2 separate regions of the Homo sapiens genome follow, and region 1 is linked to region 2. Evidence: fine-mapped expression QTL. A gene starts in region 2. The other region holds a variant in brackets. All regions are shown on one strand. Distances are between the middles of the regions.

What was found. PIP is the estimated chance that this variant, and not a neighbour inherited with it, causes the effect.
Region 1: its variant is fine-mapped to the expression of MYO9A in blood mononuclear cells (TOPMed, PIP 0.99).

The regions. Positions count from the first base shown.
Region 1 is chr15:71,818,981-71,830,441 of GRCh38, forward strand. MYO9A (myosin IXA) reads right to left here. Exons shown (of 42, transcript NM_006901.4): 40 at 11,129-11,331; 41 at 8,904-9,046; 42 at 3,311-8,063. The coding sequence ends at 7,600. Among named protein-coding and RNA genes, the nearest start is that of NR2E3, 14 kb to the left of the region's middle. The variant C/T (reference allele first, on the strand shown) is at 8,248.
Region 2 is chr15:72,110,942-72,127,415 of GRCh38, forward strand. MYO9A (myosin IXA) reads right to left here and starts at 7,209. Exons shown (of 42, transcript NM_006901.4): 1 at 6,739-7,209. SENP8 (SUMO peptidase family member, NEDD8 specific) reads left to right here and starts at 7,462. Exons shown (of 2, transcript NM_145204.4): 1 at 7,462-7,523. RefSeq lists an enhancer at 6,151-6,360 and a silencer at 6,561-7,330.

The DNA of each region.
Region 1 (11,461 bases), 290 kb before region 2:
GCAGGCAGTGAGCCGGGCACTTTTTAAATTGCCATTTAATCCGCAGATTAACTCTGAGGGAAGAGCCAATTTTCTCCATTTATAAGTGAAAAAACTGATGCTTAGAGAGGACTCAAACCTTGGTGTGACTCTACCTAATGCTGCTTAACTTTGGCACCGCCTCTTTCCCAACTTCCCCTTCACTTTTGGAATGAAAGACTGAACAATTCTGTTGCATTTTCTGCCTTCAAAGGATAAGTGTTTGAAATCAAGACAGAAAGGGTCATGTGAGAAGGCTGAGAAATCCTAGGGGTTCCCTGTCCTTTGGCTTGTGTTTGAATTCCCTTAGCTGACAGAAATGCCCTATCTACTCAGGAACTCAGAACCGCTAGGGCTGGTGCCAGAGAGGAAAGAGTATGGCAAATGCTGCCCAGCTGAAGCCCTTCTTACTTCAGCCCCTAGGCTACTTCAGATTCTCTCCAACTTTTCAAAGTATCAGAGTGGCCTCAGTTAATCGGTCAACTAATGTCTATAATGCCATTATACAGTCCAATTCCCTATCAAAAGTTTTATCCATATGAGCTAAGCCCTGAGCAAAGCCACCTTAGTAAGACACATGGTTGAAATATGACATGACCAGCCCTGCGTATGTATCTTACAGTTTGGCTTTGGAGGACATGGTAAGACTGCAAAGGTAGCCTGCTGAAGTTCACAGGCTAGCATCTGGGATGTGTGAGCCCAGCACATCTACATTGGGAAGGAGATTTGAGGGCTCTCCAAGAAGTCTTGGAGAATTAGAGGAAGTACATAAGCTGGATTGTCTGCTGTCAATCGGGCATCAATACCACCCCTCCCCCACTTCTAAGGGCTTTTCTTCACTGCAGAGATGCCAGGAAGGAACTACATTTCCCAGAAACCCTTTCCCCTAGGATTTGCTAATGAAAGACACTCACAGGAGATTTTTTCCCCCCTAATGCCAAACTGATTAAATTTGGCATTAGGAAAAAGAGAAGCCATTTTTCTTTGGAGACACTGCAGCCCTGTCGTGGGAAAATAGATTTCATAGCAGCCTCCTGGCTAGAATTGCACTAGCTTCCAGGCAAGCTCTTGAGAACTCCTCTGGAACTTGTAGCTGAGATTTGCGTTGGCTTTCTTGACCTGTGGGAATATCTCTGACCTTTGTTAGATCCTAATTTCTGTATTAAGTCCATCTCACCTGGAATACAAAGTGGCCTCTGTTCTCCTAACCTGGTACAGCTCTCAGCATGTCTTACAGACAAGAATACAAACTCCTGTTTGTAAACCACCTAGGATGATGGCAGCCATTATTCAACTTCTTGTTGTAGATTGGCTCTACAGAAATTCTGATGAGTAATGGCTTTTCCATTGCATTTAGGGTCCTTATTAGGAGGGTAGATAATTTGAAAGCTTTTTTTTTTCCCCCTCAATGCCAGAAATATCTTTGGCTATGAAGCACCACAGAGGTAGTCCCTGTGGGACTATCTGGGCCTTTCTTTTCAAATAAAGCTAGTTTTTAGATTCACGAGACACTCCTCTACCCACAAGGGGATATTTCAAGGTAGGAAGGGCAGGGAAAGACTCAAAGATGCCAAGAAGCGCAACCTCATAGTCAAACCCAGGTATCATGGATGACTAGTCTCTATCTGGTGGACATCACTGGTGTTCCCCACTAGAATGCAGGCTCCACAGGGCAGAGATCTTTGTTTTGTTCACTAATGTACCCTAAGCACCTAGGACAATGCCTGTGGGCACTACCTGGAAGTGACACACTCCTTGACTGTGAGTCTGAGATACCTACAAGATTCAACAGTCAGATATTACATGTACTTTATCTACTTTCATGTTTATATCTCTGGCTCTAAGACACTGTACTGCCACCCATTCTAGGGGCAAAAGCAATTTAAAAAACAAACCAAACCAAAGCTGTGGTCACTTTATAACTTGCCTCTCCTTATATACCTTTCTGTTCTCAGGTCTTCATAATCACAATAGTTGTCTTCTCAGTAATCATCTCAGGGGCAAGTTTTAAGAATGTATTTCGGCTGGGTGTGGTGGCTCACACCTGCAATCCCAGCACTTTGGGAGGCCGAGGCAGGCAGATCACCTGAGGTCAGGAGTTTGAGACTAGCCTGGCCAACATGGTGAAACACCGTCTCTACTAAAAATACAAAAATTAGCCAGGCATGGTGGCAGGCACCTGTAGTCCCAGCTACTTGGGAGGCTGAGGCAGGAGAATCACTTGAACCTGGGAGGTGGGAGTTGCGGTGAGCCGAGATTGTGCCACTGCACTCCAGCCTGGGTGACAGAGTGAGACTCCATCTCAAAAAAATAAAAATAAATAAAAATGGTATTTCTAGGTTTTATTTGGGCAACTAAGGGAATTTTAAACAATTAACACTTCATATTTCAATGTAATATAAATTTAATGCAAAAATGAAAATGTAAATGTAACGTAAAAACAAGTGAGAAGGATGACCCCAGAATTTTAAAAATTGAATACATTTGGCATTAGGGACATGTTTTTTTCCCCATGTAACCTCAGACCTGATTTGGCATTTTGGAACCACTGATCCTAGTCAATCCTCTCATCCAATATCTGCCTAGCCAGCACCTTTTATTAGGTGCTGGGATCTAAGAGTCAGCAAGACAGGTAAGTGTTTGACGCTGTGAAAACTGAGAGCTGTTGAGAACACAGACCTCTAACCCAATTCACAGGGTCAGAGCAAACTTCCTAGGACAACTACCTTTTATACTAAAACCTGCGAGTCAGTAGGAGTTCTCCAAAGCTGGGAGTTTGGGAAACAGAACTGACTTCCAGATAAGAAAACTAACATTCAGAGAGAGCGAATGCCTTTCCCAGACATGCAGTAAAGTTGGTAGCAGAACAAAAATGACAAACTGAGTTAAAATTTCTGTTCCTATTGCAATGTGTTGCTTTGAATTTCAGTGAGAATCCTTGGGCCCTCTATTGGCAACCTCTATTAGCAACTTCTTCAAGTGGCCAATTTAGGGGAGGATCCTAAATGCAGATTTACTGCTTTTCCTCCCTTCTAGCCTTAAACCGATTAAATGAAGTCTTGACAGCCAGCAGCCTGCATCCACTACAGAAAAAACGACACCTTGAATCACACCTTCACTTGAATTCAGTTGAGTTCCAGTGACTACCACCTCTGTGCTTTGTCAACTTTGGGTTGAGTCCTTTCCTGAAAACACATCAGTGTAACTAAGAAGTCACTGCTGTTTCTTGGAGTTGGGTTGGAATAGTTGGAGTGGGAGCCAGGATGGTTGGAAAACAAACCACACATATTGCTGCTTCTGGAAGCTTTGTTCTTTAATGAGCCATGGGGTGATTTGTTCATCAAGCTGCTTTTGTGTAGCCATACAGTGCATATTTTGAGTGACACAAACTGCACTTTATACAGATGGTATCTTGTTACCCCTCAACCCCCCAGCAAAGAAAAAAAAACAAAAAGGAAATTACAAAGTGCCTATTGATTGCATCCGGAATGTAATCAGTTCCGTGGGTGAGATAAATCATTCTTCTTATAGAATTATTCTATTAAACAGTAAAATGTTATATTTCACAGGATATGTCCTTTTATAATACAGTTTTTAAAAAAAATTTACACTCAGCATACTTATAAATTACTTAAAATCCATTAAAATAATATAATACGAATCTGTAGTCCACACCTTTCCCATAGTAAATACAAATACTTGGTTCAAAAGGTGCAACTTTTATATGACCTCAGAGGGCTGATAAATAGGCATTAAGAATGGATGACTAGCAAGGTGACAGGCCCATTGTTGGGGCTTTTTTGAAAATAGTTTCAACCAGGGGACCAACATGAGACCTAATAGATCCATCTCCACAATCATCATTTTGCTGTTACCCTTTCAATACCCAATCAAATGTGGGAGTCATTCCAGAGAAAAGTGGTTAAAAGTAGTCTAGGGCATAGAAAAAGAGGACTCTCACAGATACCAAGGAGTTTTACTACCAAGGCCAGCATGGTATTGCAGGACAGTGCTGGGGAGTTGTCACAAGAGTATGGGTGGACATAACACATTTGTCCATACAGAATGATGCATGCCCCGCATCCAGCTTCCCACCAAGAAGAAAAAAGAGAGGAGGATGAGGAAAGCCATGGAGTGAGTATGTATGTTTCTTTTTAAAATGAAAACTCTCTTAGCTTTGAACACATCCTGAGAATCCTTTCTTCTTTCTAGTTTACCAAAGTGCTTGTTACAGTGAAAAACACAGCCCACAGGCACTGAGGTGGGACTACAGAACCTTGCTGGACCACATCTTTTCAGCACATTTCTGTGACCCTCTGTTTTTGATGGAGAAAACAACGCTACTGTTATGAAACACAGAATGGAGTCTTCATTAATCTTCCAGCAGGGTAAGTGCTCTGGCAGGTTTCCAAAGCATGAGAAGGTGGGGGCTCTAGTATTCCATCCCAGGACCTCTGGCCCTTTTGTCTCTCTCTGCAAGGCTCATAGTTGGAGGGCTGTATCTCCCTTTGTGTTTTCAGAAGCCCAGAGTGGCAAAATAATTTAAATGGCAGGAGGTACAAAGTACGTTGTAAACTAAGCCTCCCTGAATCCTGCTGTATTTGCTGTTGATTTGCTTCAATTTGTGATACAGAATGAAATCACACTTCTCTGCTTTTGTTACATTTTCCATAATAAGTACATACTAAATTACAGGGATACATTCACTTTAATGGGCAGAGTTGAAAATTCAGGTTTTGTTTGGGGCTGGGAATGTGTGCTGTGAGAAGAGTGCTCTGCATTTTGGAGTATGGGCTCCAAATGTGGAGCTGCCCCACTGCTGCCATGCAGAGATCAAACAAGCAAAGGAGAAGCACTATGGAACCACAAATGTGATGCATATTAAGGGCTAACAGTTTCATAAGTGATTGTAATGCGGCATCACTTTGTGGTGACATAACTTTACCATGCAGAGGGCCAGTGAGAACAGATGGATGCAGACACAGCGTTTGGTTCTGAAGGTTTTTAAGAGTTATGGCTTCATCTCTTGATCAGGCCAACAAGGCCTACTACCCTATGTAAACAACGGCTTTCCCTCAAAGGGAGGGCCCCACACTGCTCTCCACTCTTATCATTTTGTGGCTCTCTCCTCCTCACCCACCCACCCCAATCCTGGCAGATTAAATTACTAGAAATCCACAAATCTAGCAACTGAAAAAACAAGTTTTTTTAATTGAATTTTATCCAAACTGGAGTTTCAGGTCCCTGAGAAAAATTATAAAGTCTCTTAACATCCATCACCTAGTTCCTTTAAAGTGACCTACATCAGTCGTTTTTTAACTGCCAAAAAACTTATTTTGCCAAAAAAGCCCCACAAAGATTTAGAAGGAAGAACATGTGCCAACATATGTTCTTCTGGCCATTCCTCTGGGCCACAGGAAATTATTCCATAAGGGCAATCTCTTTTTTTCATACAGGATTTAACCAACATTCTGGAGCAAGTGCAGAGTAACAATTAATGCCCAGCAGTACACTACTCTCCCAAGAACACTGAAACACAGACTGTGCAACCTGGCACGGGGCTGAGGAACCAGCAATCCCACTCTAACACACCATGCTGAGGGGTTTTCCTCTATCCTCTAGGAGATTCTCTGAAATTCAGATTTTTAAAAGCTTAACATTATTTATTACTCCTCAGGACAAGATGAACAAGGTGGCAGATGTCTGTGGGATATAAAGCATAACATTTGCTCATTAACTATCATTATTCTGGAGATTTTAATGGCTTCCTTTCTCTGGCTCAATTCTGAACCCAAAGTAGGGAGAGGTAAGACTCCTGCTACCTTTAGCTGCCACTCAGAATTATGCTCCAAGTCTAACCTCTGGGGCTGGCCAATAACCACTGAGGCAGTGGCGTGAGGTTCAGTGTTGTGTAACAGGAGAGAGAGACTCTGCCTTAACAAAAGACTTAATATTTCCACAACTTCAAAGAAGTATGAAAAGGAAGAATACCCAAAATACAGGTTATAGATGGTAAAGGCTCTTTTTCAGAGCAGTGCATGTAGTAGCAAGACAAGATGCATTTAGTAACTTTAAAAATAAACATTTCACATACTTATCTCAAGAAAGGCTATCATGTTTCATTTTTTATATATTATAAATAGCAAAAACAGATTTCTAATCCCACAAATGCTAAGATACTTAAAATGCTATTATAACTCATGTGTATGAAGACCACCCAGTGGTGAAAATGATGTCTTACTAATTCCCTCAACCCAGGGACGAATGGCTCTCATCCCCCTGTCCAGTGGCCCCTCATCTGTGGGAAGAAATTCCATGGGAAGGAGGGAAGCACAAGGTTAAAAAGAAATATGCCTACTATACATACATATTTACAATAAACTTCAGTAACCAGAATATTAACAAAAATAGCTTCAAGTAGTCCTTGATTTTTTTCCATCTATTTAATACTGATAGTCTGAGAAAAGGAAGATAAAAGTTAGTTAGTTAGATAGGTCATATTAAAAACCTTTTTATTTTTTGGCAGCTTTCTGTAACACTTACTTACTTATTCATGCAATATTGTATGTGAATGTTTTTGGAAACTAACTAAACGGTCACATTATTTGTTTGTTTGTTTGAGTCTGAGTCTGTGGTGGGAATCCACCAGCAGATGAACAGGCTCATATGCGGTTTTCGGTTTAATCTATACAAAGAGAAAAGCCTGAATGGCTTAGGATGAAACCTTCATAAGTTTAGGGATCACCATGTCTCTGGGAAACTAAAAAATAATGTAGAAGAATCTGATCCTAGGACCAAGAAACATGAGAACAGTATGGCTACTGACACTTCAGCCCATGCAATGTATTTGGCAGGAACTAAACAGGAGTTAAACCAGCACTGATTACTATGACATCAAACATCATCAAAAAAAATAGGTATTCTCTTCTTCACTGTATAACAAGATATCTGAGACACGCTCTGATGGCTTAATGGAAACAATCACGGTTTTTTTTTGTTTTTTTTTTTTTGTTTTTTTTTTTTGTTTTTGCTTTCCCCAGAATATAACATGGAGTGTTTTTTCAGAAATCTTAAAATAGAGGGATTAGGCTTTTTGTTTGTAAGTAAGTTTTTGGAAAAAAATTATATTCTACCCTAGCTCCTAACTATCCCAAAATAAACCCAAAGGCTTTTGCTTTCACGGTTAAGAAAGATTTATACGTTTTCTTCAAATGTCAGAAATGAGAGGGTCCCTCAGGACAGCAATATCCCCCCTAGTTCAACACCCACCTTTGGGAAGGGAAAAGAGGGTGGGGGAGAGGCAACTACAACTGACCCAAATCCCCAGGCCCTAGGTGGCTTTGTATAGTAAAAATCTCAATTCAAATACAACAGCCAAGGCACAGCTGGCACCATCCCCAGCAGGCTTTCTGCTTCTGCAGGAGGCCCAGGAATTCAGCACATACAGTCTTAGCCATATGCTTAGAAAAGAGGCAGGACCACAATTAGGATTGACTATTGTGGACGAGGTGATGAAACGCAGCCCCAAAGGTGAGATTTGTTTACCACTCTGTAGCCACGGAGGGACACACATCTGCCGGTTCAGACCATAAATTCATTATTTCCAAAGAGTGCTAGCTGTTGGTTGGAGGTGCAGTCTGGGTCCACAGTTTTTCTGCGGCCAGACATGACTGTCCCCTCTGGGGTCTCTTTGGTTTTCTGAGGTGAGTTTTTCACATTCTTTAATTTTTGTTTGCCCTTTTCCGGGTTGAAGGTTCCTCTGCTGATGAACTGAGGCTTGTCTTCCAGGAATTTGGTCTGGCCCAATGGTCCTTCCATTCCCAGGGCCTCATTACCTGAGGCAGCTCGGTAGAATGGAGATTTGGAATAAATCTGAAATAGTTTTCTGGTCCCATGAGATGATGCCGTGTTAGACAGACATAAAGAGGAGACCGAAGAGTCCACGACATCTAAAGAGTCTTGCTGCTTTTTAAGTTGCTTTCGCAACTTGCTGGAAGGTTCAGACTTGCCAGCTGTCTTCAGGGAGCTAAGGGCTAAGCTTCTTTCTAATGCAAAAAAGAGACCAAAGATGTAAATGACAGTGCCCTCTAAAGCAAATCATCATATAATGAATAGATGCCACTGTTCACACATGAAATTGGGTGGGATAAGATTCAGAGGGTCCAGGATGACTTACTATGGGCACAGTCACAGTAAGAGCTCACCATCCATTTCTCTATGTAGCATTTC[C/T]GAATCATCTCCAAGGAAATCTGGTGTTTGACTATGCCATCAGCGGAGGCCTAGAACAGTCACTATCATTTCAAAAACTGCCAGGATATGCAGGTAAGTCCTACATCTCCCTGAGACATGCCACCCAGTTAAACACCTCCTTTGTATATGTATATAGTCCCACCTCACAGTGGGGGCACAATGCCTGCCACCCTCAGAAAATGGGTTATGGGTCAGTAAGACAACATATATTGTGATTATTGGCTTTTCTCTGTGGTAAGTACAGGATAAAACATTAAATTACCAAAAAACAAAACAAAACAAAACAAAAAACAAAAAACTCAATCACGTTGAAGAGTTGGTTTGATAAACAATGTATATGGAAGCTTTACAAAGACAACAGGAAAAAAAAGACCTTCCGTGGAAGTCAGGAATCTAAGTAGCAAAGACAATTATATTTCTTATCCCCTTATATTTCTTATCCCCATCCAGGTCACTACCTGTATGCCAAACGATGAAGGCTAAAATTATATGGATAAAAGGACAAAATTCCTCAAGACTTTGTTATTGCTGATGTACAGTCAGTAAATTCTTAAAAGACTTTGTCTTAGTTTTGGAATCTTTATTCCTCCTTTGCAAAACAAATCTGGAGTCTTTGGTCTACCATGTTCACTTACCTGATTTCTCAGAGATAGCATATTCAGACTCCATATTCAAATTCTCTGAGCTATCAGCAGTCCCAATGGAGGCCTCAGACTCAAGGGTTTCATCATCAGAGGCACGGGGTTCCAGTACAAGCATCTCAAATGTTAGCTCCTCCCTGTAAGACACAATCAAGAAACCATTAGCATTTGATAGGAAGTGGAAGGAAGATAACAGAAAAAAAGATCCTCCATGGAAGTCAGGAATCTAAGAAGCAAAGAGAGTCCATTTTTACTGTCCCCATCCAGGTGGTGATGAGGACCTGTATGCCAAATATGGTGAAGGCTAAAACTATATGGACTAAAGGACAAAATGACAGATAGCCAATCTAGGACCAATAATAGGGGTAAGGGTAGGGTGAAGAAAGATGTAGTGGTGAGATCTTTCAGTAAAATGAACTCTGGACTGATAAGCAGGAGATCAGGGCTCTAACCTTGTTCATAATATCCATAATGCATCAGGAAAGTACCTTTCTCTTCTGGACCTCAGCTTCCTACCACAAAACAAAGAGATTAAACTAGATAACCTCTAAGATTCCTTCCAGCTCTTAAACTATTTTCCATGAAGCTTACTAACTGGCTATAGACGATACCCTCTATCTTCACCACAGAGACCTCTAGACGAAGAAAAACACTGATTGATCTTTTCTGTCCTTTGAAGCTTATGCCATCTTCAGTTGTCGTATTCTCTAGTCTCCCTTCTTCATCACGGTCACCCAGCTACCTCTCAGTAATGCCCCACATTCTGTGAGGTCTTTGGTACTCAGATCCTAATCTTGCTTTTTCACTAATGCCTGACATCACCTGATCTATTCAATTAATATCTTTGTAAAAACTCATCTGAATATTCTAACACTGAAGTTCCTTTATGTCTGCAACTTCTAACAATATTCTCCTCTACTTTATCTAAGCTACTTTCTCCAATGCACAGATCCTGGAGCTTGTCATTACTCTGAATCCAACACTCCACCCTGTTCACAACCTCCTTATCCTTCCAATTCTTACTCACCTTCTAATCAAGTCTCTTCCCTAACAGAGCCCCTTACCTTTACTTCCCCTTTACCTGGCTTGAGATCCATGAACAATCATTTCAAGAACAGTATCACCAGCATTACAATTGTCTGAGGCCATGTGCATTCTGAGACTCTGCTCGTTCTTCTTTCTTTTTCTAGAGACTCTCCCCTTCCTTGAAAATTCCTATTAATCCTTCAAGACTGCCAATATCATCTGCATCAAAGCCAAACTGGGTCTTCTTTTCAGATCACTCTTCTAGCAAATAGCCCCTGGTCAATGTACATCATCTTTGCCTTATCATGTTTTTTACAGCTGAGCCCCAGCTGCTTTTTTAGCTGGCCTATATTCCAGAATCAATCATGAGAGACCAAGAAAGTATTTTAACAGTCTTATATCCCCTTATAAACCAAACTCAAGACCTGGGATCCTGGAACTCAGGAATAAAGATCCCATTAAGACTTCCTAAGAGTCATCAATGTCGACCAGAACTATTACACAGCACCTGTAGGGAGAACCATGGCACGTTCATATTATCCCCAAGGCATACTGTCACCCAATCCCTGCAACAGTGATGAATGGAGGTAAAAGAGCTTCTCATTTGTCTCTCTCCTAAATTGCAACCAATTTCCCTATCTAGTATCCTAGCACCCTCTAGGGCTATAGCCTTACTATGACCATCTAGTTGCTGTTCCCATGGTCATATGGATCTTTGGCTAATAACCTTCCTTCATGGATTTGTGAATAATGCCCATTCTTGAAAGGGACTTTGGCTTAGCCTAAGAATTCCTTCTCTTCTTTGCAAAATAAATCTGTTCATGGAGGCTGGTCTCCGACCTGTTAGGACTCCAGTACCTCATCTTGGCTCCCCACTGTTACTGCTAGATGAATCGTGACTAAGACTGACATGCCCTGTGGATACTGTGTCCTCCTCCCAGTCAGCCTCTACAGACCATCACTGTAGCAGCCTCAGGTTTCCCAGCTCATGGAACTGGCTTCCCAGAGGGAACAACTCTCACACTGTTACCTGAGTATAGACAACACGTCTTTGTCATCTCAACATCTCCTGTATCATCTGACACAGTGTTTAACACACAGGAGATAATAAATAAGAAAAAATAAAGAAACGATAGAAGGAAGGAAACAAAAACAGACTATAACTGTCTCTCCCCTTCCTCCTGGATACTCACTTCTCCTTCTGTAGGTTCTCAATCTGCTCAGTCAGTACTCTCTCCTCCTGCTGCATAGCTGCTTGCTGCTGTTCTGTGATGTCAGTCTCCATGGCTGCCTCACTAGTCAAGGTCTCCTCTGAGACATCAGACACAGAAGGCAACCGAACTACAACAGGAGACGATGGACCTGGATAGTTTCCTCGACGAATACGCCCCTTTCCCTGCAGAGAAAAATTCATGTTAGAAAGTAAATTGAGTGACTGCATCAGTTTTACATTGCTCTTTTAGGATAACAAGTGTATTTCCATCACACCAGGTGAATGATAAGAATAAATGGAAACACTCTGCGAG
Region 2 (16,474 bases):
AAGGTCAGGAGATCGAGACCATCCTGACTAACATGGTGAAGCCCTGTCTCTACTAAAAATACAAAAAATTAGCCGGGAGTGGTGGCAGGTGCCTGTATTCCCAGCTACTCGGGAGGCTGAGGCAGGAGAATGGCGTGAACCTGGGAGGCAGAGCTTGCAGTGAGCCGAGATTGCACCCCTGCACTCCAGCCTGGGCAACAGAGCGAGACTCCATCTCAAAAAAAAAAAAAAATTATTGATTTCACATTTAAACATAACAAGAAATAGGCTGCGCACAGTGGCTCACACCTATAATCCCAGCATTTTGGGAGGCCAAGGCAGGCAGATCGCTTGAGGTCAGGAGTTCAAGACCAGCTTGGTCAATATGGTGAAATCCTGTCTCTACTAAAAATACAAAATTAGCCGGGCATGGTGGCGTGCACCTGTAGTCCCAGCTACTCGGGAGGCTGAGGCACGAGAATCACTTGAACCCAGGAGGCAGAGGTTGCAGTGAGCCGAGATTGCGCCACTGCACTCCAGCCTGGGTGACAGAGTGAGATTGTCTTAAAAAAAAAAAAAAATTAATAAATAAAACAGGAAATAGACGTATTCAAGAGGGAAAAGGAAGACTTACTGAGTACCTACTATATGCTTGGTGCTTTACATAAAAATTTTTTTAACTCCAATGATAGTCTTATGAGGCAAATATTACCCCCAATTTTTTTTTTTTTTTTGAGGCAGGGTCTCACTCTGTTGCCCAGCCTGGAGTACAATGGCATGATTACAGATCACTGCAGCCTCGACCTCCCAGGTTCAAGTGATCCTCCCACCTCAGCCTCCCAAGTAGCTAGGACCATAGGTGAATGCCACCACACTCAGCTATTTAATAATAATTTTGTCATTTTTGTAGAGACAAGGTCTCCTATGTTGCCCAGGCTGGTCTCAAACTCCTAGGCTCAACTGATCCTCCTACCTCCACCTCTGCCTCCCAATTATCCCCAATTGAGAGATGAAAATTCTGACAAGCTCTCAAACGTTAACTGACTTGCCCATAAATGACAGTTCCAAAGTTATAAGGCTAGAACTTGAATCCAGGTCTGTTAGAAATCTAGGTTTGAGAATCCATATTCTCTCCACTTAATGGATTTAAGATTCACAGATATAAAAGCCTATCTAAGGAAAAAGAATATTTAAAAGAATACAGTTATATATTCAAAGAGCTACACAATCTTACAGTTTAAGAAAAATCAAAACTGAGAAAAAGTATGCTCCAAAATTATTGCTAATTGTAAAAAAAAATAAATAAATAAAAAAAACACACACAATTTTTAGCAAGCCAGCTGTCTATGACAGGACAGCTAGTCCATTCCTCACTGTACATGTAAAATTACACTTCAGTTGCCCGCTGGATGACCCCACTGCCAAAATACGCCAGCAACATAATTCACATTAAAACCCAGAGGCCTAACACTATTTGGAAAGTGCTTTACATGTTTACTATACCTATCCCAAGCATATTTACCACTCATAATTCATAGGCCATTTTCAGCAAATATACTTTGTTCTATCATATTATTTTCTGCCACTCTAAAATCATATTAAATGTATAAAACAAAAACACCTACCTAAATATAACATCTCACAAATAAACCTTAGTAGTATTATGTTATTTTGAACTTGTCTATTGTATGAAACTATGCCATAATTGTTTCTATAACATAAATTAGGTATGTTCTTTCTACAGGATCAAAATTCCAATACCTACACTCCTTGCATGTCTAAAGATACACACAAAATAGGTACAGAAACCTATATGTTAAAGGGTTTCCCATGTAAATTAAATCCTCTATGAGCTGGATTAGTGACTAGAAGAAGGCATGAGGCAGCTTGTAGAGTTCTAGTGATATTCTATATCTTGATGTAGATGTTAGTTACACTGGTATGTTCTTAGTGAAAATTCACTGAGCTATATATTTACCAGCTGTGTACTTTTTGTATATTTTATAATTTATAAAGTCTTATATTTTTAGGCTGGGCACAGTGGCTCAGCCTGTAATCCTAGCACTTTCAAAGGCTGAGGCAGGAGGATGGCTCTAGTCCAGGAGTTTAAGACCAGCCTGGGCAACACAGTGAGACCCTATTTTTTCTGAACTTATATTTTTTAAAATGCTCAATCTAAAAACTTGTTTTACTAAAAAGCACTGATATCATCCCTCTTACCAAAGTAGTCAAACCCTAGTGAAGAAAACAGACAAGTAATTAAGCTATTTCATTAGAGGACTATGATAGAAGTAATTACTATGTGCTACAGGAGCACATAAGAATGGTACCTAACTTAATCTGAAAAGAGGTAAAGGAAATCTTCCTGAAGAATATACACCTGAACTGAATCCTAAAGGTCAGACAGAAATTAGCCAAGCAAAGAAAGGGGAAAGTGGAAATCAGGGAAATAGAACATCAAATGTAAAAGACGAGAGAGAAAGCACATTACCTGAGAGGAAGCCTAAAGTCAGTAAGAGTGGATTAAAGTATGTAAGGAAGACAGCAAGTGAAGAAAAGCTAGAGAATTAAGAGTTAGATCATGAATGATCTCATACACATGCCATGCTACAGTTTAAACTCTATCCTGAAAGCAATGAGACAGCTTTTTTGAAGATTATTCAATAGGAAAGGACATGATTTGATTTTTATCTGTACTATACATGTCAAAATTATGGTGTGGGCCATGCTCACAACCCCATTTTGCGGTAAATTAGCCTGCACACTGTCCCATACTTTCCACCATTAAGATCTTTCCTGATACCCATATATACATACAAACACACAGCCAACAATAAATGGCCAAGAGTGGTGACATAACCTAAGTACACAGACTTGTTAGCAATCAATGAGAAAAAGAGCTGAGCCAAATCTGGAATTCAAACCAGAAAATCCTAGGGAAAAGGAAGAGGTTAGCAACAGGAGCTAACCTCTTTTAAAACGTTTTAAAACAATTGCAGCCAGGAGGCAAGATGTTGGCATGGGGGTCACATAGTAGTTATAAGGAGCAGAAATTAGTAATAAATGGAAGCTATGACATAGGGGGAAAAAAACTGAAGAAAGAAACGGTATCTAGGACAAGCTAACAATGGAGCACTGGAGTGGGGTCTCCAGCTTTATTAGGTTCTTGTTCTTCTTGAGAGCAAGTTTTATTAGGTTCTTTTTCTTCTTGAGAGCAAGTTAACTTTTCCTGGGTTCCCTTGTGTATGGTTCCTTTCAATAAGCACTTCATTACTTAAGGTAACTTGAGTCTCTTCCCTCCAAGTGAAAGAGCCTGACTAAAAGAGCATTTTAGAATACTTACTCCAACAGCAGTCAAGAGAATGAACAGGAGGGCATGACAAGAGGCAGAAGACAGAAGGCAAGAAGACCACTCAGCATTACAGAAGCCCAACAAACAGATATTTTCAGTTAAAATAAGATAGAGGCAACAAAAAGTAATAAGGAATGACCTGAAATATCATGAGGGAAAATGTACAAGGCAGTGACAGACTGGATGTTGGCAGTGAAGTACAGAGTGAAGCGGAGGGCAATTCCCAGGTTCCTGAAGGTTTCATGAGGAAAGAGTGGTGCCATTAATCAAGGTAGGAAATCGGGGGGAAGAAAAAATTTTGTTGCAGTTTCTGTCTCCGGCTCTCTCTCCACTGTTTTTGTGGGGGGAAAAGAGGCAGGAAGAGTTTTGTTTCCTAAATGTTTGGATTGAAGTGTTTGTGAAATGTGAATCAAAGTGGTGATATCCATTAGGCAGTGCTTTTACAGGGGTCTAGAGCAAAGGCAAGCACTCTAGACAGCAGTTCTAGACTTAGGAATCAATACATTAAGTCAATATTGTGGTTTTTAAAATGTCTGAAAAGTCTTTGACTAATATTTATTTCAAACTGAGTTAACATAACCAAAAATCACTCCAACTAAAAACCTTAATATTCTTGGCAAATCATATTTTCAAACCTCCTACATTTCTCTGCTATTAAAGACTGAACAAACTTCCACATAGTATAATCCAAATGATTAGGAAAGATGGAGTTTATATCGCTAACTTCTATTGAGGTACTTGTTAAAAAAAATCTAAGTTTACCCAATTTCCCTCAGGAACTATATACTACTAAAATAACTAAGGGAAAACAACTGTTAAAAATTCATATATTAGATAGTGAATCTCACTGTTAATGCTTAAACTAGAATAAGTTTTTTAAAGGCACTTAATCATGTAATTTACTAATTTAAATATTCAACTCTACCTGTAATTTAAATGTTGGGTTTCCATCCTAAAACCTTTTCTCCTCCCTTCTGTATGATTTTGCCTCCAAAATCTACTGCTATCAACCCAGAACCTGATACTGAGCTTCAGCCACAAATCCAAATGCCTAATGGTCATCTACATCTGACAGAACTACAGTCACCTAAACTGAACATGTCACAAATTAACCCCTCTATCCTTCCTCCTTGACAAAATAAAAACAAAATCCCACTCCTTCATGGGAATCCCCACCTCAGTGAAAGGCACAAGCCAGAAACCTAGATTTTATCCTGTATGCAACTTCTCCCCAACCCCAAATACAATAAAATCACCAACTCAACTCCGAATATCCAAGTTCAGATCCAGTCTCACCATTTGCCTGGATAACCCTAATATTCCTGGCCTTTAGTCTTATTCTACTCTTCAATTCACTGCAGCCAGAATGACTTTTTTAAAATGCAAATCTGATCATTCCAGTCCCCTGCTTTAAAATCCTTCAATAATTTAATAAATATTATAATCATCATCACAGCTAGTCACACTGTGGAAGCTCAGAGGTTCAATGAGAAATTTAGTTACATCCTTTCTGTAGGTTCAACATAAAAGAATCATCAGGAATTTTTTTCAACTCACAAAATTATTTAAACATACATATAACATCAGACACATTTAAAAGAAAAGCATGTAACATTGTTGGTAAAAGCAAAACACCAAAAATAACCTCCAGTCCACAAAAATGGAATACTATCCAGCCAGTAAATGAGGCACTTCCATATGTATTGTTAAGAAATGACCTCTAGGATGTAGTATTAAGTAAAAAAAACAGGCTATGTATAGAATGTAAAGTATGCAACCATTTGTGTACAGTGTCTTAAAAATATAAATGTGTAGGTTTATATATTGGAAATATCACAGAAAGGATACACATGAAGCTGGAAATAGTGGTTGCCTCTAAAGAGGAAAAATGGGTGGCTGGAGAGTGAAGGCGGAACAGAAATTTTTACTACATTACTCTTCCGAAACTTTTGGCTTTTACGTCTAGTTATTATCTATAATTTTAATGTGATTTTCTCCTGTTACTTTAACATTTTTTACTGTGTGTGTGTGTATGACTACAAAGACCTCTTTATATTTCATCTTTATACCAATATTAAAATTACGTACTGATCATTTGATGCAACATTACATTTCTTTCTTGACAACTCAGGAGCTCAACTTCTACAAACATTTTATTCAACATTTTACTGCTATTGAGAAGGCTGTTGTTGGTAATGACCTCAGTGAACACTGCATGATTTCTGTACTTGCTTCTTGGAGAAGCAAGACAGCAGCACCAGGCAACAGAAGTTTATTATTAAACCGACATCGAAGCATTCAGGGATTAAGGAATGCTACAAATCTTATTTTTCTAGCAAATCCAAAAAACAGTGAATCCAAAAAAAGTCCCCTAGTATCCTTTAAAAATAAAAATAAGAAACAGTTCTAGTATCTGCAGCAATCGACAAGGAGGTGAAGTAATACTACAAGACGACATAGTTATATCCACTAGTGCAACGTGATTTAATCCTTACAGAGGTCCCTAAAACATCAGTGCTGGACAACCTCACACGTTCTACACAGAACAGACAAGACGAGGTGCAGGCTCTGTGACCTTATAATGGCACACACACAACTGGCCTCATGCTTCCATAACTTCACTCTGCCTCCCACTTTTTTCAGCCCAACCCCTCCAAACATGGGTCTCGGTCGGTCCCCTTAAGCCACAATGGAGGGAATACATTAGGCTAAGCAAATATTCCCTCAGGATTTCATGGCAAAGCCCTTTCAACCAAAGAAAGGATCGCGACTAAGGAGAAAGATAACAAGGTTTGCTTGAGGAGAGGTCTGTTGAGAGAGGCTACAGTCGGTGGTGGGAGAGAAGCCAAAGTCTGTGACGGTGTCTAGAGGGACTGACACCACATCTACCGGGAGTAAGAACACCATGACAGCGGCTATCTGAAAGCCGTGATGGCTAGGGTTAGTGCTAGTCGGCTTGGTGATGAGCGAGCTGGGAGGGGTTCTACTAAGAAGAGTAGGGCGAGGGGCACATGGGGGACGCAATGGGTTAGGGGGCGGTCGAGACTTTGCCTGAGAACTGTAATCACGTCAGCCCAAGGGAGGATGTAACGTAGTCTAGAAGCTCCATTAAGAGTCCTAAGGGACTCTGAGGGGTACTAATGGGGTCTGCTGGGTTGGGGGGACCGTGACAGAATCTCCGGGGAGGCTGGAGGGCCGGAATGGTGCCCGGCCAATGGAAGATACAGGGGGTGGGGTCTACTGGGGATCCGGGGCCGTGATCTGGTGTTTGGGAGGCTCGGCGCAGACCCGCTCGCGGGGCGTCTCCGCTGGGACGGGGCGGGGCGGCCCGACCGGAGCCAAATAGCGAGGCTGAGACGTGGGCCAGGACGGGCTGCAGGGCCGCTGGGCGCTTGGGCGGGTCTTACCTCGGGCTCCGCCGCGGTGGCCACCGCAGCCCCCTCCTCTTCGACGGAAGCTGCCTTCCACCCTCCGCCCCAGGGTAGGACCGGAGATGGCAGAAGAGGCCGAGGCCACCGAGGGTCGGACGGTTCCGGGAGGGTGGGCCCAGCAGCCTCAGGGTCCGGGCGAGCGGCCGCGGCGCATCCCCCGCCCTGTCAGAGAGACTCCGCCCGGCCTGAGCAGGCACATCCCCCGCCGCACCCCGCCCAGAGAGCACGCGTTGGACCGCCGCCTCAACCGCTGCCAGCGGCCGCCTCTGCCGGTGCAACTACTGCCTCCGCCGCCGCCTCTCGCAGTCCGGGCTGTCCTGTACTCTCTCAACAGACACAGCCAACCGCCGCCGCGTCCCTTATCCGCTTCGGTCGCGCGCCCCCGACCCCGCGCACGCGGCCCCGCCCCGCGCGACTCCCCGGCTGCAGGCGAGCAGGCGCGCGCGCACTTACCTCCCACGCCCCCTACTGCCAGCACGGGTCGGCCCCGCCCTGTCCCGCCCCCGCACGTGACGCCACTGGAGAGTACAGCGTGCGCTTGCGCAGACACGCCCCCTTTCCTACGCCCCAGGCGGCCCCGCCCAAATTTTTTCTTCTTCACCTTACGGCAGAGCAGGGAACTCAGCTTTAGATTCTCCCTGTACTGGAAAGGGATGTCGCAAGGTTGGGGACGAAACCTCTGAGTTTGCGACCGTAGCTGTCGCTTTCCGGCCAACACAGAGGTGCCTGAAGGCTGGTTGGGGTGGTGAGGCCCGAGGCAGGTAAGAAGCCTCCTCCCCACTTCGGTTTGTCTCGGCAGTGGATCGCTCTCCCACCCACTCAGATTCTGGCGTATCCGTGCTCCCTCCCGATTCTGGACCTGGATTCTCAGCGCCGCCGGTCATAGCCCCCGCCCCTTTTCAAACACGCACGCTCTCTCCACCCACTGCCCCCTCCATTGTCCCCGCCCCGACCTCCGTTTCCATTCATTTCTCAGACTTTTCACTGAGTGGTTTCCATGCCTTGGGTTCCAGAATGTCAGAGGCGAATTAAGTGGTGTCAGCTTTTTGAAGTGCTTTTGTATAGGAGACCGTGAGAGAATCCGCAGTGGTAGTACAATAAAGTGACAATAGAGAAAAATGCACGGGATGCTGTCTGCGCACAGAAGAGGGGTCCCAGGTTGTGTAGGAGGATAACGTGAGGAAGCCCTTTCCAGGGTGACTTTTGGGTCACTTTTAGAGGACTGTGTTAAAAGACTAGTAATCCAGTACCTGGTCAAAGAAATACGAAAGGAGGTAAAAGCAGAATAACGGGCGCAAGAGCATGTGACAGTGGTGGTCTGAAAGAGAAAAAAGAAGTAAAATAAACCTGATGGAAACCGTACTAGTGTAGACTTCCCTTTAAAGAAGCATCGTTATAAAGTTAGAGAAATGAGGAACGAGAATATGGCCCTCAGGAATGTTTTCTGTTTAGGTAGAAGACTCAAAAGCGTACCATGAAACCGAGAAGTGGCCTCTTCGAGGGTGAGGGAGGCTAATTTATAAGATCAAGATCACTAGTGGAACGCAACCTTGTATGTGCATTTGAATCACCTGGGAAACTTTTTGTTAAATAAAACCAATACTGTTGCCCCACTCTAGACCAATTAAATTCTGGGTTGTGCCAGGTGTCATTACTGTTTTAAAGCTCCACAGGTGACTCTAATGCTAAAGATTGAGACTCACTAAACTAGAGAGAAGGAAGTTGAGACAGTTGGCTCTGTAACATTAAGATGGAGGTCATTTAGCCGGGCGCGGTGGCTCACGCCTGTAATCCCAGCACTTTGGGAGGCCGAGGCGGGTGGATCACGAGGTCAAGAGATCGAGACCATCCAGGCCAACATGGTGAAACCTCGTCTCTACTAAATATACAAAAAATTAGCCGGGCGTGGTAGCAGGCGCCTGTAGTCCCAGCTACTCGGGAGGCCAAGGCAGGAGAATGGCATGAACCCGGAAGGCGGAGCTTGCAGTGAGCCAAGATCGCGCCACTGCACTCCAGCCTGGGTGACAGAGCGAGACTCCGTCCCCGCCCCCAGAAAAAAAAGATGGAGGTCATTTAACTACAGAGAGGCTTGGAGATGGAATGAGAAACTTGAGCGGCGTTATGTTTGGAATAACTGGTCTGGGAAATGGGAGAAGGAGCCACTCTTGCCTTTCTCTTCAGCACTGTTCATTCCTCAGTGTTTATCAGGTCCAAATTAGTTACTTGTCTCTTTGCTCTCCCGTTCCCTTCCGTCCAGGATTGGTCAGCTGTTGTCTCCAGCCTTAAAGCTCAAAGGCCATCCCCACTTCTGTCCCCAAAATGATCAGAGCTAAGCCAATTTATGAGATGCAGAGACCAACATCCAGAGCTAAGCCAATTTATGAGATGCAAAGACCAACATCCACTCTCATAGAGATTACTACATACAGTGCCTTGCCAATTTAGAATCTTTTTCTATTATTTATCATTTAAGTTAGTAATGAGATATAAAGATATTTAAAATACAGCTCAATTAGGATGGAAAATTACCGTATTAGGGAAAGCAGGCCTTTAAACAAAGAATTCACTTGGCAGGCAGAGAAGCTGTATGAGGTAAAGACCAAGACAGTGTATGGCTGCTATCTATTAACTAGGGTTAATCCAAAAACCTGTCTATCAGACCCAGATAAGAACGAGTTATTGTTGTCTAGTATGGCTAGAGCATAGTATGGAGAGTAGAGGTGGGACAGAGATGAAGATGATAAAGTGGGTGTGAACAGATTATGAGGAGCCTTGAATTCCATGGTGAAGAGTTTAGATTATATTACTAGAAGTAATTAATAAGTACAAAAAAGGTTCTTAACCTCTTTTACCCAGTGGACCTTGTTGGCAGTCCACCTTATAGATTCAGTCTCAGAAAAATGTTCTTAAATATATAAAATAGAATACGTAGTAATATAAAGGAAACTAATTTTGTTAAGTTTTTAAAATATTAAAACAAATGTGTGATATATATGCACTTTATGCATTAAATAAAATCTGGCAGCAGGTCTAATTATATAATTTCTAAGTAGTGATGACTATAAATTATATTTTGAAATGCCTGCAGCAACTTTAATGTGATGTGAAAATATCAGATTTCTATTGGTAAAAAAGAGAGTGCTAATATTGTAGTTTGTGGTCCACACTTATTGAAGAAATGCTAAATTTCAGCTACTGATTATTGAAAACAAAGATGCAATTGTTTTCCCAGTCTAAGTTCACAGAACCCTGATATTCTAGCCACATCCTGGTCTATGGATCCTAAGTTTTAAAATATCTCAGTATAATGGTTTTAAGCAAGAGCATGACATCAAATCTGTGTTTCAGAAAAATGATGAAGCAGTGTTCACTTCCCAACCTCTCTGCTGGGATGAGAGGCTGGCTCTGGGGCAGCAACCAGTACTATCCCACTGTTTCCTAATAACCAGGGCCTGCAGAGGGACTGAGCTTGTGGGTGTATATGTCTGTGAGAGTAATACCAGAAAATAAATCAGGAAAGGTAGATTGGGGCTATTTTTGTGGAAATCATTGAATGCCAGGCTGTAATTTGTAGTTACTTTGGTAGACAATGGAGGGTTGTTAAAATTTTTTGGAGTAGAATAATGTGATTAGAGTTCTGTTTGAAAATCTAGAATAATGTGCAGGTTAGATTATCAAAAGAGAAGATAGGAATGAAGAGACTAGAACAATAAGTTAATTAATTTTTGAAAAATGGAATCTTGGGCCAGGTGCAGTGGCTCAGGCCTGTAATCCCAGCACTTGGGGAGGCTGAGGCAGGAGGATCACTTGAGCCCAGGAGTTCAAGACCAGCCTGGGCAACAAAGTGAGACCGTGTCTCTCCAAAAAAAAAAAAAGAAAATTAGCCAGACATAGTGGTGCCTGCCTGTGGTCCCATCTACACGGGAGACTGAAGCAGGAGGATTACATGAGCCCAGGAGGTCGAGGCTGCAGTGTTCATGCCACTGCACTCCAGCCTGAGTGACAGAGAGCCTGTCTCCAAAAAAAATCTTGAGGTGATCTCTAGAGTCTGCTAAATTCCTTTATTTCCACAATGTGCTGACCAGTCTAGAGTAACATACATTGGAATAAATGGCATACCTGTCAACAGGAATATATACCCCAGTGTGGGAGTCAGTTAACTTTATGTGGTCAAGAGGCTAGCCCAGTCTTTTGTATTATAAATGATATTGTTAGTACTTCTAATAAAGCAATGGCCTTACCATAAGTTCACAGATCTTGCCAAGGCCTTCCTCAGTCAAACTCCATCTATACCTGTGAGTCCTACATTTCTGACTTTTAAAAGTCAGAACCTGTCTATACCTGTGAGTCCTACATTTCTGTCTTTTAAAAGTCAGAACTCCTCTCTTTTTGCCAATTCCTTAAACTTCTTGGATGGGAAAGAAGTTTAGTTTAAACACATTAGCAAAAGAATGGGAGGTCCTCAAGGCCCAGGCAACCCATCTCCTTTGAAACTGATCAATACCGGACTATAAAAACTTACTGCTCAAATCCAGCTAGTACCCAAAGTATGTACTGTCTATATACCTGTCTATACCTGTGAGTCCTACATTTCTGACTTTTAAAAGTCAGAACTCCTCTCTTTTTGCCAATTCCTTAAACTTCTTGGATGGGAAAGAAGTTTAGTTTAAACACATTAGCAAAAGAATGTGAAGTCCTCAAGGCCCAGGCAACCCATCTCCTTTGAAACTGATCAATACCGGACTATAGAAACTTACTGCTCAAATCCAGCTAGTACCCAAAGTATGTACTTTTTAAATGTATTCTAAAAAATTGAATTTGGGGTTTAGGTATTACTGATCCAAATGAGTCCTATAAAATTAACTTCCAGAACTAGGTTCTCAGAGAGGCCACCATTACCACCTTCTTCAACATAACTAGCCTATATTGACTTTCTGTCCATCAAATAATTGGAGGCCATTTGGGTGGTGATAGGAAGAATTAAGTTTATGCAGAACTTGAGGTTCAGCTATCTGACACCTTTTGCGGGAGGAGGAGGAGTGGGTCTATCTGAAATCAGAAATAATACTTTTATGAGGCTTTTTAATAATTTTTATTACTTACAGAAAATTTCTGAAAGTTCCTTTCTCTGGCTCCCAATTAAATGGCTTACTCCACAATCAACTTATAAAAGCACTGGATCATTGTCTTGATCCCAAAAAATTTGTCCCAACTATAGTTACTATTTTGAGCATCTGTATTATTGTTTGAAAACCTTAGGCTTGCTTTCCCTGATGGCCAATGAATAAAACTCTCAAAGTCGTGTGATTCATTACTCATTAATTCATTAGATATTTATTGAACCTCTACTATGTGCCAGGCACATTTTTGAAACCCACTAATGAGCAATTTGTAATGACAATTTACCTCTTAACTATCTATGAAAAAAATAACTTGCCAGGATTTGAAATCCTTAGAACAAATGAGATTAAAAGATCATAGCTTTTTTGTGTTCTTTCAAATAGTGTGTTTGCATAGAGCTGCCATGTGCTGACCACAGTGATTATCTGTGAAATGAGGTAAATCATGGCTTTAACCACTCCTTATCAGACTTTGTTACCACATGTACTAAAATAAAGTTCTGTCTACACCTTTATAAAATATTATCTTACACAGACGTCTTATTAATTCTAATGGCCTCTCCACACCTGACCCTCACTCCTAGTCATTTCAAAGTTTGCAATTGTGTAAAGTCATTTCTCAGAAAATTTGAAGCAAAACAAAGTCACCACAAGAAAAACTTGGTATACACCAGGTTTATATTGAGGACAAAAACTGTGACACAATTACAAATGGAACTTTTTTTTTTTTTTTTGTGATGGAGTTTTGCTCTTGTTCCCCAGGCTGGAGTGCAGTGGCGTGCTCTTGGCTCACCACAACCGCCACCTCCTGGGTTCAAGCAATTCTCCTGCCTCAGCCTCCCGAGTAGCTAGGATTACAGTTGTACACTACCACGCCTGGCTAATTTTGTATTTTTAGTAGAGACAGGGTTTCTCCATGTTGGTCAGGCTGATCTAGAACGCCCGACCTCAGGTGATCCACCCGCCTTGGCCTCCCAAAGTGCTGGGATTACAGGCATGAGCCACCGCACCCAGCCTACAAATGGAACTCTTGAGGTAGAAATGGTAGACCAGGAATAAAATTATTTTCATGGTCAATGACACCTTAGCCATTGATAGCTGTGCCTAGTTACAGAGCAATAAATGGAGAGCCTTGGTGTTAGATGAAATCCTAAAAAGTCACCTGTTTTATCTCCTTGGCCCCAGACAGAATAAAGTGGAATTTATAGCAGTAGAGTTACCAAGCATCATCATCACACCAAGTAGGTTTTGTACTTTGAGAGCTGAATTCCTCTCTGAAATATTGATGTTACAGGAATGTTGTTTAAATTCATAGCTCATTTATAAAATTGAGAATATTTCTTACATTTATAACTGTGTTGTGTTTTCCTGAGTTTTTCAAGATATGTTTCACTTCTGTACTTTGCTCACTCAGGAAAAATATTTATTTATTAAAACTCTAGCTTGTCAGGCACTGAAGTTAGAAGGATGAGTAAAATCTAATCTGTGTACTCAAGAGGGTTATATAATAAATCTTGATGGTCATTCTTACATGCCACATTATACAGATCTCCAGATGGCTTAGGCTTAGTTTTAAAAGGAAACGTTTTAATTGGGGGGAAATTGAAACCCCAAAAAAAAGCCATGAACTTCCTTCCTGGAAATATTTTTGCCATAAAAAGCATATTTGGTCTTGGATGTGATTCTTTTTGTGAAAGTGCAAGTTGAATCAGACATTAGAAGTTGGACATAATCTTCTAATTTTAGTAAACATCAAATTATTTTTAAATATTTGTGTTTGAACATTTATGGAAAAGAGATTAGATTTACCTGTTTTATCCAGAGGACAGAAGTAAGACTCAGAAGTTGAAAAAATGGAAATATTTTATGTCATTATAAGAGTGGGAACTGGTACATCTTTTATTCCTCTTCAATATGGAAATCACTGTATTTACTAATTATGTGTTCATTATTAAAAAAGGGGGAAAAATTAAAGCACAATATCAAAAGGTAGAAGGAAAAAGGCAAAAAAGTATTAATCCTATTTCTTAAAATGATATTTACACTTGATGGATATCGTTCTTGATTATTTTTCTGTATATTTTTATCATATACAGATGTTTATATCAAAGCATATTATGAACATTTTTCTTTTAATAAATTTGTATTGACAATATTATATTTAATGGCTGAAAACTATTCCATCGTGTGGAAACCCTGTTGTTTAATTTACCAGTCCTTTTTTGAACTCCAGATTGTTTCCAGTTTTTCTGTTACAAATACTGCCATGGTGAATATCTTGTTGAATTTTTGCACACATTGTTAATGTCTCCCTTAAGTTAAATTTCTTAAAGTATAATACCTACATATATAAATTTCTTAAGAATTCCAATATAATGGCAAATTACCCTTGAAAAAGCTTGCATGTATGACAGTCCTATCAAAATGGGGCATCATTTACTCATTTCCCATAATCTCTCAGCAATGCTAATTATTATTAGTTTTCTTCACCTTTGCTAACTTGACAGGTAAAAAAATGAAATTTTATTTTAACTTACATTTATTTGATTACTACTCTGATGTCCAGTGTCTTTTCATGTGTTTATTGACTAGTCATGTAAGTGTATTAACTAATATTTTCTAACAATTTTTTTTTTACTTTTTAACATTTAAATTTGTATTCTATCTAAAATATAATTTGATGTAAGGTATGAGGTAAAACTCTTTACTTTTTTAATCAAATAATTAACAAGTTGTGCCAATGCTACTTATTAAAAAATCCAGCAAGCATATCCCATACTTCAATATACAGATAATAAAGTACTGATAGATATTCCTCCAAAAAAAAGAAAGACTATTTCGTGGTTAAATAAGTTTGGGAAAAGATCATACGAAAAAAAGTTAAAATTTTTTATCGCCAAACTCTCGTTAGCCTCTAGTGTGTGTGTGTGCATTAGGAGTTAGCATTTCCTAATTTAATTAACCATGTAATCTTTTTTCTTTTTTATTTATTTATTTATTTTATTTATTTATTTTTTTGAGATGGAGTCTCACTCTGTCGCCCAGGCTGTAGTGCAGTGGGGTGATCTCGGCTCACTGCAACCTCTGCCTCCCAGGTTCAAGCAATTCTCCTGCCTCTACCTCCCAAGTAACTGAGATTACAAGTATGCACTACCATATCCAACTTGTTTTGTATTTTCAGTAGAGATGGGGTTTTGCCATATTGGCCAGGCGGGTCTCAAGCTCCTGACCTCAGGTGATCTGCCTGCCTTAGCCTCCCAAAGTGCTGGGATTACAGGTGTGAGCTATTTTTTTTAACCATGTAATCTCACTTCATAGGTATTTCAGGAAATACCTATGAAAGCCTGTGGAACTGAGCTGTCCAGTATACTAGCACTAGCCACATGTGGCTATTTAAATTTTAGTTAATTAAAATTACTCAGTTCTTCAGTCACACTGACCATATTTCAAGAACTCAATAGCCACAAGGGGCTAGTGGCTACTGTATTGAACATTTTGCAGATAAAAGAAAATTTCCGGGCCAGGCACAGTGGCTGATGCCTGTAATCCCAGCACGCTGAGAGGCCGAGGTGGGTGGATCACAAGGTCAGGAATTCAAGACCAGCCTGGCCAAGCTGGTGAAACCCTGTCTCTACTAAAAAACTACAAAAAATTAGCCAGGCACAGTGGCAGTTGCCTGTAATCCCAGCTACTCGGGAGGCTGAAGCAGGAGAATCGCTTGAACCCAGGCAGCAGAGGTTGCAGTGAGCCGAGATTGCGCCACTACACTCCAGCCGGGGCGACGGAGTGAGACTCCATCTCAAAAAATAGGAAAATTTCCGTCACAAGAAGTGCTATTGGACAGCACTGCTATGGGAACATAATGTTCAGTGGAACACGTGAACACGCTGAAAACACTGGAATAATCCATAATTTCTCCTGATTTGTCAGGCAAACATGATTACTACTACACTATGAGAACAGACTCTCTCATTGATTTGTAAAGACTCCATCATCATATTTAAAATTTCTAATCTACATATGATTTTTTTATGCTATTGATTTATCTACTTCTGCTCCAATACCACACCCCTAGTTTTAAGTCAAGGTTCTGCACCTTTCTCTTTCAGAGCAGAAATGAAGAATTCTTGCATGGAGTAGGAAATTAGATTAGAAGTGATAGTAAAGGCGCTTTCACTTCCCAGACTCTAAATGTAAACATTTCTCTGCCGAACTTGATTTATATTATGTTGAGCTGTATACTCAATTACTTATTCATTTATTCTACAATTATTTATTGAGTACCTGCCTGGTAAGCACTGTTTTAGGTCCTGGGGTTAAAATGGCAAACAAGGCAGACAAGGCCCCTCGTCGTCTTATTTTCATAGAGCTTACATTCTTGTTTTGGAGAGGGAAAGAGAAGAGGCAGGGGGAGGAAAAAAGAATATGAACCAATAAACAAATAAATTAAAAAACTATCACATAGTAATCAGTGCTATTCAAGGAATTGAAATTAGAGTGATAGTAACTGGTGGCCTCTTTGTTTTGGCTGCCCTGAGACCTCTGTGACTTAGTGGCATTTAAACTAAGATCTGTCCAAAGAAGAAGCTAAT